Linked DNA regions of Homo sapiens. The protein of the gene in region 2 interacts with the protein of the main gene of each other region in a pairwise test. Each region holds a gene or a part of one and is shown on either strand. Other genes may lie near its edges.

Evidence for each region.
Region 1: the proteins of MAGOHB (region 2) and ZNF19 interact in binary tests that used the Homo sapiens proteins (3 or more experiments, as listed by UniProt).

The regions. Positions count from the first base shown.
Region 1 is NC_000016.10:71,473,083-71,479,364, forward strand, and holds the end of ZNF19 (zinc finger protein 19), read right to left. Parts: intron 5,924-6,282; coding exon 5,797-5,923; intron 5,260-5,796; coding exon 5,146-5,259; intron 3,191-5,145; coding exon 2,088-3,190; 3' UTR 501-2,087; downstream 1-500. UniProt on the Homo sapiens protein: May be involved in transcriptional regulation.
Region 2 is NC_000012.12:10,603,667-10,610,623, reverse strand, and holds the end of MAGOHB (protein mago nashi homolog 2), read left to right. Parts: coding exon 1-2; intron 3-682; coding exon 683-793; intron 794-1,240; exon of another isoform or gene 1,241-1,526; intron 1,527-2,687; coding exon 2,688-2,770; intron 2,771-4,249; coding exon 4,250-4,349; 3' UTR 4,350-6,431; downstream 6,432-6,957. UniProt on the Homo sapiens protein: Required for pre-mRNA splicing as component of the spliceosome. Plays a redundant role with MAGOH in the exon junction complex and in the nonsense-mediated decay (NMD) pathway.

The DNA.
Region 1 (6,282 bases), on a different chromosome or scaffold from region 2:
GCACACTCTTCATAAAGTTATCATATTGAGTAAATCTGTGTAGTGACTAGGAAAGTGTCTGTCACATGTTAAGTGCCAAAAAAAAATTACTGCTGTTATCATTTACTACAGGGCAGCTGGGCTGATGCAGCAGCATTTGAAGCAGTCCCTGACCATGGTTACTTTAACCAGTTTTTTTTTCTGAGTGGCTTTTAGGTTTTCTGCCTTCAAAAAGATCCCCCTGGAAATAACCCAAATGCCCACCGACAGTAAGCAATAAATTGTGGTATATTCATGTAATGGAATACGACATAGCAATGAGAATGAATCTGTACTGATGATTCCATTGACACAAAAGAACAAAAACAGGCAAAATAATTTCTGGTGATAGAAGTCAGGGTAGAGGTTCCATAAGGACTCTAACAAGGTACAGGAGACTTGTAAGGTCCTATGTTCTATTTATTTATCTTGGTGATTATAAGGCTATGTTCTTTGTAAAAATTCAAGTTGTACAACCATGATTCATGGTTTTATTTTATTTTATTGAGGAATCTCACTCTGTCACCAGGCTGGAGTGCAGTGGTGTAATCTCGGCTCACTACAACCTCCGCCTCCCGGGTTCAAGCAATTCGCCTGCCCCAGCTTCCTGAGCAGCTGGGACTACAGGCATGCACCACCACGCCCAGCTAATTCTTGTATTTTTAGTAGAGACGGGGTTTCACCATGTTGGCCAGGATGGTCTCGATCTCTTGACCTGATGAATCGCCCACCTCGGCCTCCCAAAGTACTGGGATTACAAGTGTGAGCCACCGCGCCTGGCTGACTCATGCATTTTTATGTTTGTGTTATACTTCAATTAAAAGGTGTTTACTCAATTCCCCAAGTCTATCATTCATTGGTCAACCCAAGCACATGATACAACTGCTCATTCATCTGCTGACAAGTAAGGAAGAGGTGGTGAAGCCACCCAGGTGCTAGACGCAGTAAGCAATTAAGTCTGGAATTGGGTAGGGAGATTCCAACACTGGCTGGCAGCGGAAGGACACGTGGGAGAAAAAAAGGGTGCAGTTTGTGTTCATCACCAAAGAAAAGGGCCAGCCCTGTTTTCCTACTGAGAGATCTCTGCAGTGTGTCTTATGACCAAGAACCATGGCATTTCCTTGGCTCCCTAGCCAGGTCAAGGGCAAAGCGGGCGTGCTGTCCTAGGAATTAAAATGGCAAATACCAAGATATAATAGCTACAATAGCCTGGCATTTCTCAGTTTAAGGCCTAGAGTAGCATCCATTCCAAATAAAAAACTGAATAAACAGAAAATGAAAGCTTTAAGAGTGAAAGCTTTTAGTTTCCTAGTTAAGACTTTTCTTGAGAATGGATTCACTGGTGCAGACATAATTTTGTAGTACAATGAGATTTTTGTTACAGAGCTCAAGTTGTTAGAACTTCTATCTACTAGTGGTGTCTGATATAACCTGGGCTCTCCAGTGTTACAGTGGGCTTCCCAATCTCATCACAATCATGGGGTTGAGGAGCTGCCATGACTATAACTAAAGACTTTCCCATATATCATACACACAAAACATTTCTCCATCAGGTATGTTATCCCTGAAAACTTCAAACAACTGCTACAATGACAACACTGTTTAAGTCAAAATTCTGTTCCAAGGCAAGAAAACCTAACTCAGGTGTGCCAAAGCCAAAACCAACCAAACAAAAATGGAATTTATTGGCTGCTGCAATTCAAAAACCCGTATATATTTTTAGCTTCAGGCATGGTGTATGTGGCTGTTCAAACATTATCTTCAGTCTTTTACTGCTCTCCAATTCTCAGATGCATTTTTGCTGTGTGGACTTCATTCTCACCTCTGTAAGAGTCTAGTTCTTCTTCTCAGCATTAAAACCAATGGGGGTGGGCGGGGGGAGAGTATTTGTTCCTATTAGCTCTTGCAATCCTGGGACTCTAATTGAACCATCTTTGGTCATCTACTGACATCTGAATCATTAACTGTGGCTTGAGGGATGGATCAGAGGCTGAGTCAGGCCTGTGTCACACATTCCATTCCTGAGTAGAAGACGGAATCCACTCAGTACATTTCACTGGAGTGTACTATTACCAGTAAAAGGGGGTAAAAAATTCTGGGAGGCCAAAACGACAAATGTCCAGCACAGGCTTCTCTCCAGAGTAGACATGCTCAAGGTGACCTAGCTGGGAAGAAGTCCCAAAGGCCTTCTCATACTTGCTACACTCATAGGGTTTCTCTCCAGTATGGATTCTTTGATGCTGATGAAGATTTCTTTTGCTAGTCAAGGCTTTTCCACACTCATCACATACATAGGAAGACTCCTGAGTATGAATTCTCAGATGCCTTTTTAATTGTTCCTGAGCACTGAAGGCTTTTCCACAATCTACACAGTCAAAGGGTTTCTCCTCACTGTGAATTCTCTGGTGCCGAGTTAGTTTTGTATGAAAATTGAAGGCTTGTCCACATACTTTACAAGAATAAGGCTTTTCCCCTGTGTGAATACGCTGATGTTGGCTTAGATGGGAAGTCCTTCCAAAGCTTTTGCCACACTCATTACACTCATAGGGTTTCTCTCCAGTGTGGATTTTCTGATGCCGAAGTAGGGGTGAATTACCAACAAAAGCTTTGCCACACTCATTACACTCATAGGGTTTCTCCCCAGTGTGGATTCTCTGATGTATAACAAACTCGGAACTACTCGTGAAACTATTCCCACACTCTGTACAGTAATAGGGTCTGTCCCCACTGTGGATTCTCTGATGCCTGATCAGATTTGCATTATCATTAAAGGCTCGCCCACACTCCTCACACTGATAGGGTCTCTCTCCAGTGTGAATCCTCTGGTGCCGAATTAACGAAGAATTACCATTAAAGGCTTTTCCACACTCACTACACTCAAAAGGTTTCTCCCCAGTGTGGATTCTCTGGTGTCTAGCATAGTAAGAAAAGTAGCTGAAGGATTTCCCACACTCCTCACATATGAAAGGTTTCCTTGCACAGGGGATTCTTGGAACCTTTCCTTGGATATTTTTCACTGTGGGGATGTCCTGGTGCTTTTCCACATTACGTGTTTCTGGGAAGTCAGTTCTCTGAGGGACACTCTTCAGCTGACCATGTGACATCATCCCATCTCTTTCTTCAGAAATTCCCTGGATTAATGTGGACTCACTGTCAATGTTGGTCTCAACATCTGACATAAGAGATAGAAAACACAAATAATGCCACCTGAGAACTATACTAGAAATAATAGAGCATTGAAAATGATAAGGCTTTAAAAGAGATCATTTCAACTTTCACATCAGCATGCTGGGAAGAAAAGGCTGTTAAAGTGAAAGTGCCAAATATCACACAGGCAGAGAACATTGAGGTGGAACAGGGTATCAGTGGACACAACACACGAGACTGCTTCCTAAGCTTTTCTACTCTAATATTTGAATGATGTCTGGTCATCCCTGGCATGAGCTAGTATCTTTTGAATTGATGCTACTTACAGCCTACAAAATGCCAAAGAAGGCACAGGTCTTAAGAACAAGTAGTGACATCGGGGCTGGCAAGACTTAGAATCAGAAAGTGAAACAGAACAGTATCAGAAAGCAAAGGCAAAGGATGAATTGTTGTTCTTTTTAAAAACTCATACCCTGCAGATGTCCCAAAAGACTTAAGACACTGAACATTACAGACACTGGGTTGTGGCAAGACAGAGAGAAAGAAAATCACAGAAGTGCTTAGAGAGTATTATTCCCAATATGTTGTAAGATTACCTAGTTCAGAGGTTCTTAACTGCAGAACCACACATGGACTATAGACGATGAGGAAACGCCCTAAAACTGCTGAACCTCAAACATGCAGAGAAACTACTGTCCTAGACTCTCTATTTGAAAAGGGATGAACAGTTTACTTAGACACACCCAGACTGAGAGTATTCTTTCTCCTATCAGCAAAAAGGAGACAAACAGCCCATAAAATGGCATTTGTGTTCCAAAAGATTGGATGACATTTTAAATGAGTTAAAGTCAATCCATTTTATATGAAATGATGGGCTTGGTTTTAACATTAATGTGGGTTACCTGGGACTCATGTGATGGTTAATCAAGTTCATCCTATGAGTGTGAGTTAAAGGAGTAAGGGAACTCCGAAGGAGAATGTTCAGAGGAGAGTAATCTGAGATTGAAGTAAACAAGGTAACCAAGAGTCTGAAAAAGAATAATCACCAGACAGAGGAAGCGTGTGAGAACAAACCAACAGGTTCTCAATTGTCTTGATGATTCTTTTTCAGATTCTTAGAATAAGAGGCTGAAGTGCTGTGCTAGCTTCATTATTTTCCACGTATTTGCTCTCTGCAAACCACCTGCACTGAAACTCCTGCCTCTGCCTTCAATTTCACTGTTTGCTCTTGGTGGCCCCCATCTATTTGACTGTCTACTTTCTCTTCCTTCTCTCACTGAAATTAAATATCCCTTAATGGTTAAGATTCAGCCTTCATTTTTTCTTCCTGGGGATCGTTTCAACCCAGCTGTGTTAGAGTACTGTTTCAGACCTGCCTTTTATCTCAGACTCTCCACCCACCTTCTCAATGGCCTGCTCTAGCCATCCACTTGCCTATTCTAAAGGCACCTCACGCCCTGTGCTCAGCTCTGAATTCCTATGAATTCAAAAAGCTCCTCCCATGCCATGACTTCCTAGTGTTATCTGACTCAGCTCTCCCCATTTATGGCCAACTTTTGGGAAGATCTGGCCCATTTTACCTTCACATTCTCCGTCCCACTCCCAACAGCACTTAATACTTTTCTTTTTCGCTTTTTACATCTGTCTCCATAACTTGTACCTGCCAGAACTTCTTAAACAACGTTCAGCACATGGCAAGTTGCTCAAAAACTGCTCCTGAATAAATCCATCCCAACCAAGGAGGACAACTAAGGTAGGCAATGTTGAAACTCAGAAAGGAACAATGGATTCAAGGATTGCAGATGAGACGTACTGAGTGATTACATGTTGGTAAGAGTTAAGATTGGTGAGAAACGTTTCATATTTTACCTATTAGGTGAAATCATCTATTTTATTTAAATCCTGCCCAGCATGATTCATTTTAAAATACAGTGCTCCATAAAACGCTACAATTGTTGGTTCTAAATCTGCCTCACCTACCTTTACAGACGTTTTTGGTCCTCTCTGCTGGGGGATCATCCTGTGCTTCCAGGCCCCAAGCCATGTCCCCTCTCTCCAAAAGTGAGATCAGTGCAGGTTTGGGAACTGGGTACCCTGAAAACAGGAAGAAAATGGTACTTTTCAGCCCTGTATCTGCTGTGTCAAAAGAAGGAAAACCCCAGGAGTCTCAGTAAGAATAAGACCCACAGAAGAGGGTTCTCGACTGGAGAAGGCCAAAGAGATTCCGATCAACAGGAAACTGAGCATTTGTGACTTCTTCCTAAAAAAAACACTCAAGGATAAGTAAGTCAGTGAGATCCACAAGGCATGAGCAAACACAGGGAAGGGGACATGCCCTTCCCCAGACAACAACTACTACTTATTCCTTACTGTGCAGAGCCTCTTGGAAGATGGAACATACTCTTACCAGGGGACAGTAATTCCCTTCATTGGGAGACCAAAGTGACCCAAGACCTCTCCCTACCCAGCAATCTTTGAAGTTGGTCACTGAGCCTCAGCTCTGCAGTCACTCAGTGGAGGACACAAGAGACAACCTCTCCTCTCCACTCCACACTCCTCCCCCCAGGCTGTAAAAGAAGGAAGGAAACTGGAAAAGTACAGATCTGAGTCCTAGGAGGAAAATGGCCTTACCCAAAGCAGTCAGGTTCCCAAAATTCTCCAACATCACACTTCTGTACAGGGCCCTCTGGGCAGGAGAAAGGCCAGTCCATTCTGTCTTGGTGAAGTGCACAGCCACATCCTCGAAGGTCACCATCTCCTAAAACAACAGGTTCCTGCTGCCCCAGAGCCAATCCTCTGGCTCCGGGCCAGAGTGTGGGGCAGAGGGGACAGGTAGGGACTTGAGGGAAAGTCCTGTGAGGGATAGGTAATGAGAAAATGTGACAGAACTGGATATTAGACCATTATATGACTATTTTTACAACGAAAAATCTGGAACTTCTCTCACTACCAGAAGAGATTCCATTAGGATATAAAATTGACTGTCATAAAATGTGATTTAACATTTTTTAAACCCTAGGAAAAAAAGTCTCTTATTAGTTAACCTTCCTAGGGCAAAAATCTCTTTGATTTAGTAAATATTTTCAGTCTTTTACTTTTGTACCTACAGGTGGACAA
Region 2 (6,957 bases):
AGGTAAGTTCTATGTGAATGTCTTTTTTTTTTTTTTTTTTTTTTTTGCATTTAGCCCATTTTCTTCAAGTCTGTGTTGAATTTAAAAAAGTACATCTAAGGCTATATTGTAAAGAAGAAGGCAATTTATAGATTGAAAGAGTTTCCATTTAAATTAGATACAGTGTTTGCATCCATAGGAATGAGAAAGTTCAGAGAACTAACCTTGACGTGAACTACACTTGCATTTATTGATTTATTGATTTAGGGACAGAGTCTCGCTCTGTTACCCAAGCTGGAGTGCAGTGGCTTGATCTCAGCTCACTGCAACCTCTGCCTCCCAGGCTCAAGCGATTCTCCTGCCTCAGTATACTTGCATTTATTACAGTTCACCTTATAGATCTTGTGATGACACAAGTTAACCACTTGTGGGTATTTGGATCTCAGTGTTGCAAAGGCAGAATACAGTGTTTGAAAGACAGGTAATGATGAGAAGAGGGAAAAAATGTATGTGAAAGGAAAGGGCAAGAGATGAAGAAAAGCAGTGTAACAAGGATAAGTGATTCTGTCTCCTCTACTTTTGGAATCAATTAAATTTTTCTATATTCCTCTATTTGGATATTCAGGGTTTGTAACTCATTTCTTTCTGAGTTGAGGGGTGACATAGGTGGGCATTATCTCATTTTATTATGATTAATTTTTAGGCTTATGTGCACAAGAGTGTAATGGAAGAACTGAAGAGAATTATTGATGACAGTGAAATTACAAAAGAAGATGATGCTTTGTGGCCTCCCCCTGATAGGGTTGGCCGACAGGTTTGTATTTAGTGATTCTTTAAGTGTATAAATATTAAAAATTGATAATACTATTTTGTTTCCCGTTATTTATTTGGAATGAGTCTAAGTTGATTCTTTGGCTTTCTATTTAATAGGCACCTGGTAAATTCTCTTTAATTTTATCTCTTAGTTCTGTTTTTCTGTGCTACCTCCTAGTAGTGAAGGAGTCAGTGCATAGCTCTAAATTTAGACATCTTTCTCTGTAGTCACCCCAGCCAACGTTAGGATGTTTTCACAATGCAGTGTTATGAATAATTTCTGTTGTGTGTTAATCACTTTTATTAAGAATATGACTATGTAAAATTTATTTTTGCCAAATCATAACTTCTAAAATTCTTACTTGCATCCCTATACCCCAGAGAGAAACTTGATTGGTGGTTTCTTTGTTAAAACTGATGATTGCATTTCCCTCTCATATTCCTTCAGAATAAATGATGTTTCTCAGGCTTCTGAAGAACTCTGAAGGCCTAATTTCACTCTGTAAAAAGAAAGTTTGGTTTCTGAATTGGGTCTTTTCAACTCTTGGAGAAATTCCTTCAACAACCCCTGGAAGGAAGAAACATTTAATTTCACTTTTGTATATCCCTGAGGATTGTACTTTGTATCACCTTCTTTGAATAGAAGAAAATGTGGAGAAATCTAACACATGCTGACACTCTGTAGGAGTAACTTAAGTCTTCTGCTTAAAGAAGCATTATTTAGAAAAGCAAAGGTAATAGTTAACAGTATTTATTTTAAGCATCGTATCACTTTTAAAAAGTAAATTTAGGCCTCAGTTTGTTTTATGCAGATACACATATGTACTAAAAAGCAAACCACAGCAGCTAACCTTTTATATCATTTAGACTCAGGGAGAGCCTAGTATTTTATCTATTCACTTAAGGATGTGTTCATGGGTTTTGGTTAGTGGGGAGGAGTAGGCATGCTTCAGAAATTGCCTTTTGTATCAAGTCAAAGGTTTTATGGCTGTTAGAGCATCTTAGCTAATTCTCCATTCTGTGTGTGTCATAAACTGCATAATTAGGCCTCTGATTAAATAAATAGCTAGGATTGTCTTCAATAGTGTCTGTTAACTTGAAGATTCATTACAGATATAGCTTTTTAATTATTGGTTTTAGGCCTGCAGATAAACAATATAGGGAAAAATCTATACAGTAATTACAGCACACTAGGAACATCTACATTAGGTTGGTTTTTTTTTTTTTTTTTTACTAGTTCTTAATTTTAGTTATTTTGTGGAGTATTAGTTTTGAAGTCTTACCATCTTGGGATCAAATATAAGTACCATCATTATTAGTGGTTATAAATATCAACAAGTATTTTCTTCTGCTCTATGAGTTTTGGATTACACATTTGTAAAATAGGTTAGTAAGGTTATTTTCAAGATTACAGAGAGTACAAAGTCCCTACCACTAGGGCCTGACATACAGTAGGTGCTAAAGTGGTGGTGGTTATTAATATTACACATTTTATTTGTAGAATCTTCCAGAAAGAAAAAATGTGTATTTATCATATTAAAAATGGTCTTATACTCCAATCATTTTTACAACATGTGCTTCAAAGTGATGTCTTTAGTTTTTACTGACATTGTAAGAAATATTTCTTTGTCATTTTGTTTCATAGTGTCTTCTTTATGTCTCTGGAAAGCAATTCTTTGTTGGTCCTAAACTTGGGGGTAGTGCGCGTGAGCAGTCTTTATTTTAAGGATATAGTTTATATCTAAGAAACCATGTTTCTTTCCCCCTCGCCCCCCACTCCCTCTGTTGGCTGCTAGAAAACTTGCAACTAAAATTGGGATCTGCTTGTAGCAAGAATACAGATACCTCTGGGATAGATTTTTATATTAACTACATTTTTCTGCTATATTTTTTAGGAGCTTGAAATTGTAATTGGAGATGAGCACATATCTTTTACCACATCAAAAATAGGTTCTCTTATTGATGTAAATCAGTCAAAGTAAGTATGTTAAAGCATTTTGGCGAAGTTTTCATTATTACAGAGGCTCATTTTAGAACTATAGTCAGTTTGCTAGCCAAGATAATTTCAGTGGCATCCTATCAGTTTATTATGCAGATGTAATCCTGATTTTTATGTCATTAAAGGCTTATTATCTTGTCTCTCAGTAGAAGTTAGCAGAGTATTTCATTGATTGTCCAAAAACTTTTAATCCAACAGCTGTATATAATAATGCCCAAGTTGTATTAGCTACTTTGTATAAAAATGTGGATACAGTATCAGCAAATCCAAAGGAAAGAAATCCTTATTGGATTATGTCAGCCTCATTAGGCCTATATCATCTCACTGTCCTTCTTGGGCTCAATACTTGGGAAAAAGATGGAAAAAATCCATTATGGCCTAAGTATGCTTTAGCTATCGATGTCTTCCCAAGATCTGTCTCTCCTCTGCCCCAGGGTTTTGTAGCACATCCCATTTTCTTGGTCTGATCCTAGCCACTTATTTTTATTTGTGCCCATTCCCCTCAAAGTGTCCCCATAGTGCTCTTACTTTTTTCTGTCACCCTGAATTGTAATAACCTATTTGTCTGCTTTACTGGTTTGAATGTAAGCTCCTTGAGAACCTTGCTGTATCCACAGAGTTAGCATAGTGCCCTGCACATAATAGATGCTTTCAATAAATATTTGTTAGTGGAAAGGAGAAAGGAATGAATGCATGATAACTATTGGACGCAAAATCTGTGTTCACAAAGACCATCCAAATGCTTTTAAACTATCAAATTTCTTTTCCTACATTTGGTAAGGGTGTGGCATTGATACCCTACTGGGATTATAAATTGGTAATGGTTTTTGGAAAGCAGTTTGGTAATATGCATCAAAAACTGTTGACATTTTTCATTCACCTTTGGCCTAGTAATTTCATTTCTGAGCATCTCTTCTATGGAACTATTCCTAAATATTGGAAAAGCTTTATTATGCATGAAGATGCTCATTGAAGTATTATTTATAATAGGAAATTAACCCCAGTGTCTAACAAGGAGAGAATTATTAAATTAATTAAAAATTACTAGGGAATTTTTTTTTTTTAATGCTGTGGGGAAAGTAATGTAAAAAAGGGCACAAGGAATAATTTTAGTTATTAAAAAATAGAGAAACATCAAAATGTTTATAGTTATTCTATGAAATGGTAGCATTACAGTATTATTTTTTTCTGCTTTATTAGACATTTTTATGATGTGGTTATTACAATCATAAGGATATGAACTCTTTAAATACTAAAATGAATACTGATGAAGAAACTATTTTTTCGTATAGAAAAGATATTAATTGTATGTTCATTTTAGTTGTCAGCAAAATCCTTCCTTTCTCCTAAATTTTGTTAACTTAATTGTTATGAGATTTTGATTTGTTTTGTTTTAGGCATTTAAAGAATTGTTTTATCCTAGGAAGAAAAAGTAACTTTTACCTTTTTAAATTTTAGGGATCCTGAAGGCCTTCGAGTATTTTACTATTTGGTACAAGACTTGAAATGTTTAGTTTTCAGTCTTATTGGATTACACTTCAAGATTAAACCAATTTAAATTGTATGTTTTCAGGCTGTTTGTATATTTAATTAAGGGATGGGAGGGGTTATTTGTCATTTACAGTATTGGGGTTTTTATGAATGTGAAGCAAACAAAAAAAATTTGTATGTAAACTGAAAATAAGAAAATACATTAGCAAGCTTAATGGTTATCCTTACTTGAGTCCATATGGGTTGGACAGTCCCCACACACATTAAATTCTGTAAATGAAAGCCACCTTTTGTTAAAAATTTGCTCTAATAAAACATACCAAATCCTGGTTGCAGAGTAGTTTTTTGTTTTTTCCAGGAGGCTATGTCTCTAATTCACTTTAGAGATAATAAGAAATTGTTCTGGTAGATATATCCTGTGACAGAAGATACTTTAGGTGGAACTATGTAGCCAGATTCCCATCCATGAAAGGCAAGTGTAGATTGTCCCTTATTTCCTTCATACATGATTGGATTTAATTTTGGGGGGCTTATACAAGGTCTAGTTTTTTTTTACAGTTATGACAAACCCCTCAGGGATTATTCACATTTAAATATTTTCAGTTATAAGCAGTGAGGTCCTAAAGTGTTACAAGAGTACAGTCTACCCCATGTTAGGCATATCTTTGATTATGTCTTTATTCCTTATTTCACAATGTATTTGGTGTGTAGGGGAGGGGGGAGAACTAAATGAGTTTTCAGCTTTATAAATTGTTAAACATTTAGACAAACATATATGTATGTATGAATGTACATAAATATTTTTAACTCCTATTGACCACGAGTCTCACTTCAGTTTCCCAGTTCCTTTCAACCTCTTTCTGATAGATTTCCTCTTTCATTACTTTTAGTAACCATGTTCCTTGTTTCCTTTTATTCTTCCATCTGAAGCCCCACTCTTAAAAAGTTGCACTGTTCCAGTAGTTATAATCCACTTGCCCTAGGAACAAGTTAGCACTGAATTTTGGGTGGAATAATTAGTTTCTGAAGGCTTGCCAGGACTCCTGAGCAGGTAGGCTCTAGAGTCGGGCAGTCCAATAACTTTTTTGCAATAATGGAAACGTTCTATGTGCAGTCCAATAGGGTAGCAACTGGCCAAATGAGGCCTACTGATTACTTGAGGTGTGCCTTGTATAACTGAATTTATGGTGCTATTTAAACAATTTTTTTCTAACGTGAAAAGGATAAAACATTAAAAACTCTTGAGAACTATAAAGTGAACACCTATATGCCTACCCCTACCTAGATTCTATACTTAACATCTTTTTTACTGTAATATCTCTATTATAATAAATCTTGGTTTTTCACTTAACTGGTGTAATTGGTGCCAATAAACTACTTTTTTTGTAGTGCTATTTAATTTTGATTAAATTTAGGTAGCCACGTGTCTAGCGGCTACCGTTTGGACAGTATAGCTCTAGAGCATGGCTTGGTAACCTGTTTGCCATGGAGCACTAGATGGTCCTTTTCACTCCTCAAAATGCATGCCCATTGTCTTCAGGTTTGCCATGGAAAGTCAAATGATTTCCACTTCATTATGCAAGTACGCTATCATCTTCAGGTCTTTTGTATGTAAAATGTTTCTGTTCCAGTTGTAGACCTTGATGATTGTGCAGTATGAAATCGTATTGTAATTTTCTTGCATTTAGATGTCAACCTCAGAAACAGGAACAATCGTCTTTTGAACTTCCAGTAGGCCCACAGTTGTTGGTTGTTCCTCAAAACAGGTTGTGGCTCCTGTTGAATAAGATGATCCATTAAAAACTGAACAAGGTTGAGGAGAAATAGTGCTTACGTTGAAAAATCTTTAAGTCTTTGTCCCCGTTCTCTAACTTCCTTACGTTTTCGTTTATTTAGCTCTATCCCCACTATCTACTAGAATTTCTCATATTTAAACCAAGATGGGAGACTAGGTCATTAGGAAAATATTACCGTCTACAATTTTCTTATACTTTGATCTGTCTTTTATTTGATTGTAAGTTGCTGATGGACAGTGATCATTAGAAACTGAATTTTGTATAATACTAGTTTTATATGAAACTAGATTTTTATTGCGCTCAGGTTATGTTCCTTTTACCTCCTTCCTTAATAAAGAGACCACTTGAAATAATCAGACTTTTTCCAAGTACTGTCTGCACCTCATCCCACCTCTTCCCCATTCATGAGATAGTGCAGAACCCTAGCACAGTCTTTTCCATATAGTAGGTGTTTTTTAAGTTTGTTGAATTGGTTGCTGTCTTGCTCTGTCCTTAGATTATTTGCCTTTAGATTATTTATCTTTGGTATTTCATTGGTATCAGGCTGAGTCTATTTGTATGGATATTTTTAATGTAAATATTAATGTAACTGAGATGATTTATATATTCTATTGTTAGACTACTTCGTTTTGATTTGAAATGTGTGAACCTATGAGCATGGACTGTGCTGTAAGTTTAACCACTGACCCCTTTAATTAATAACTGGATTCCTAGCATGAATGGATAATGAAGTCGAATAGAAAATTTTAAAAATTTAATAAACAACAAAGGTAAATGAAGGATTTGAGGGTGAGTTCAGAATCTGCCTTGGCTGACTTCCGTATGATGATCAGTAAAGTTGGATAACTACCACTCAAAATCTCTGGCATCTACCTTGTC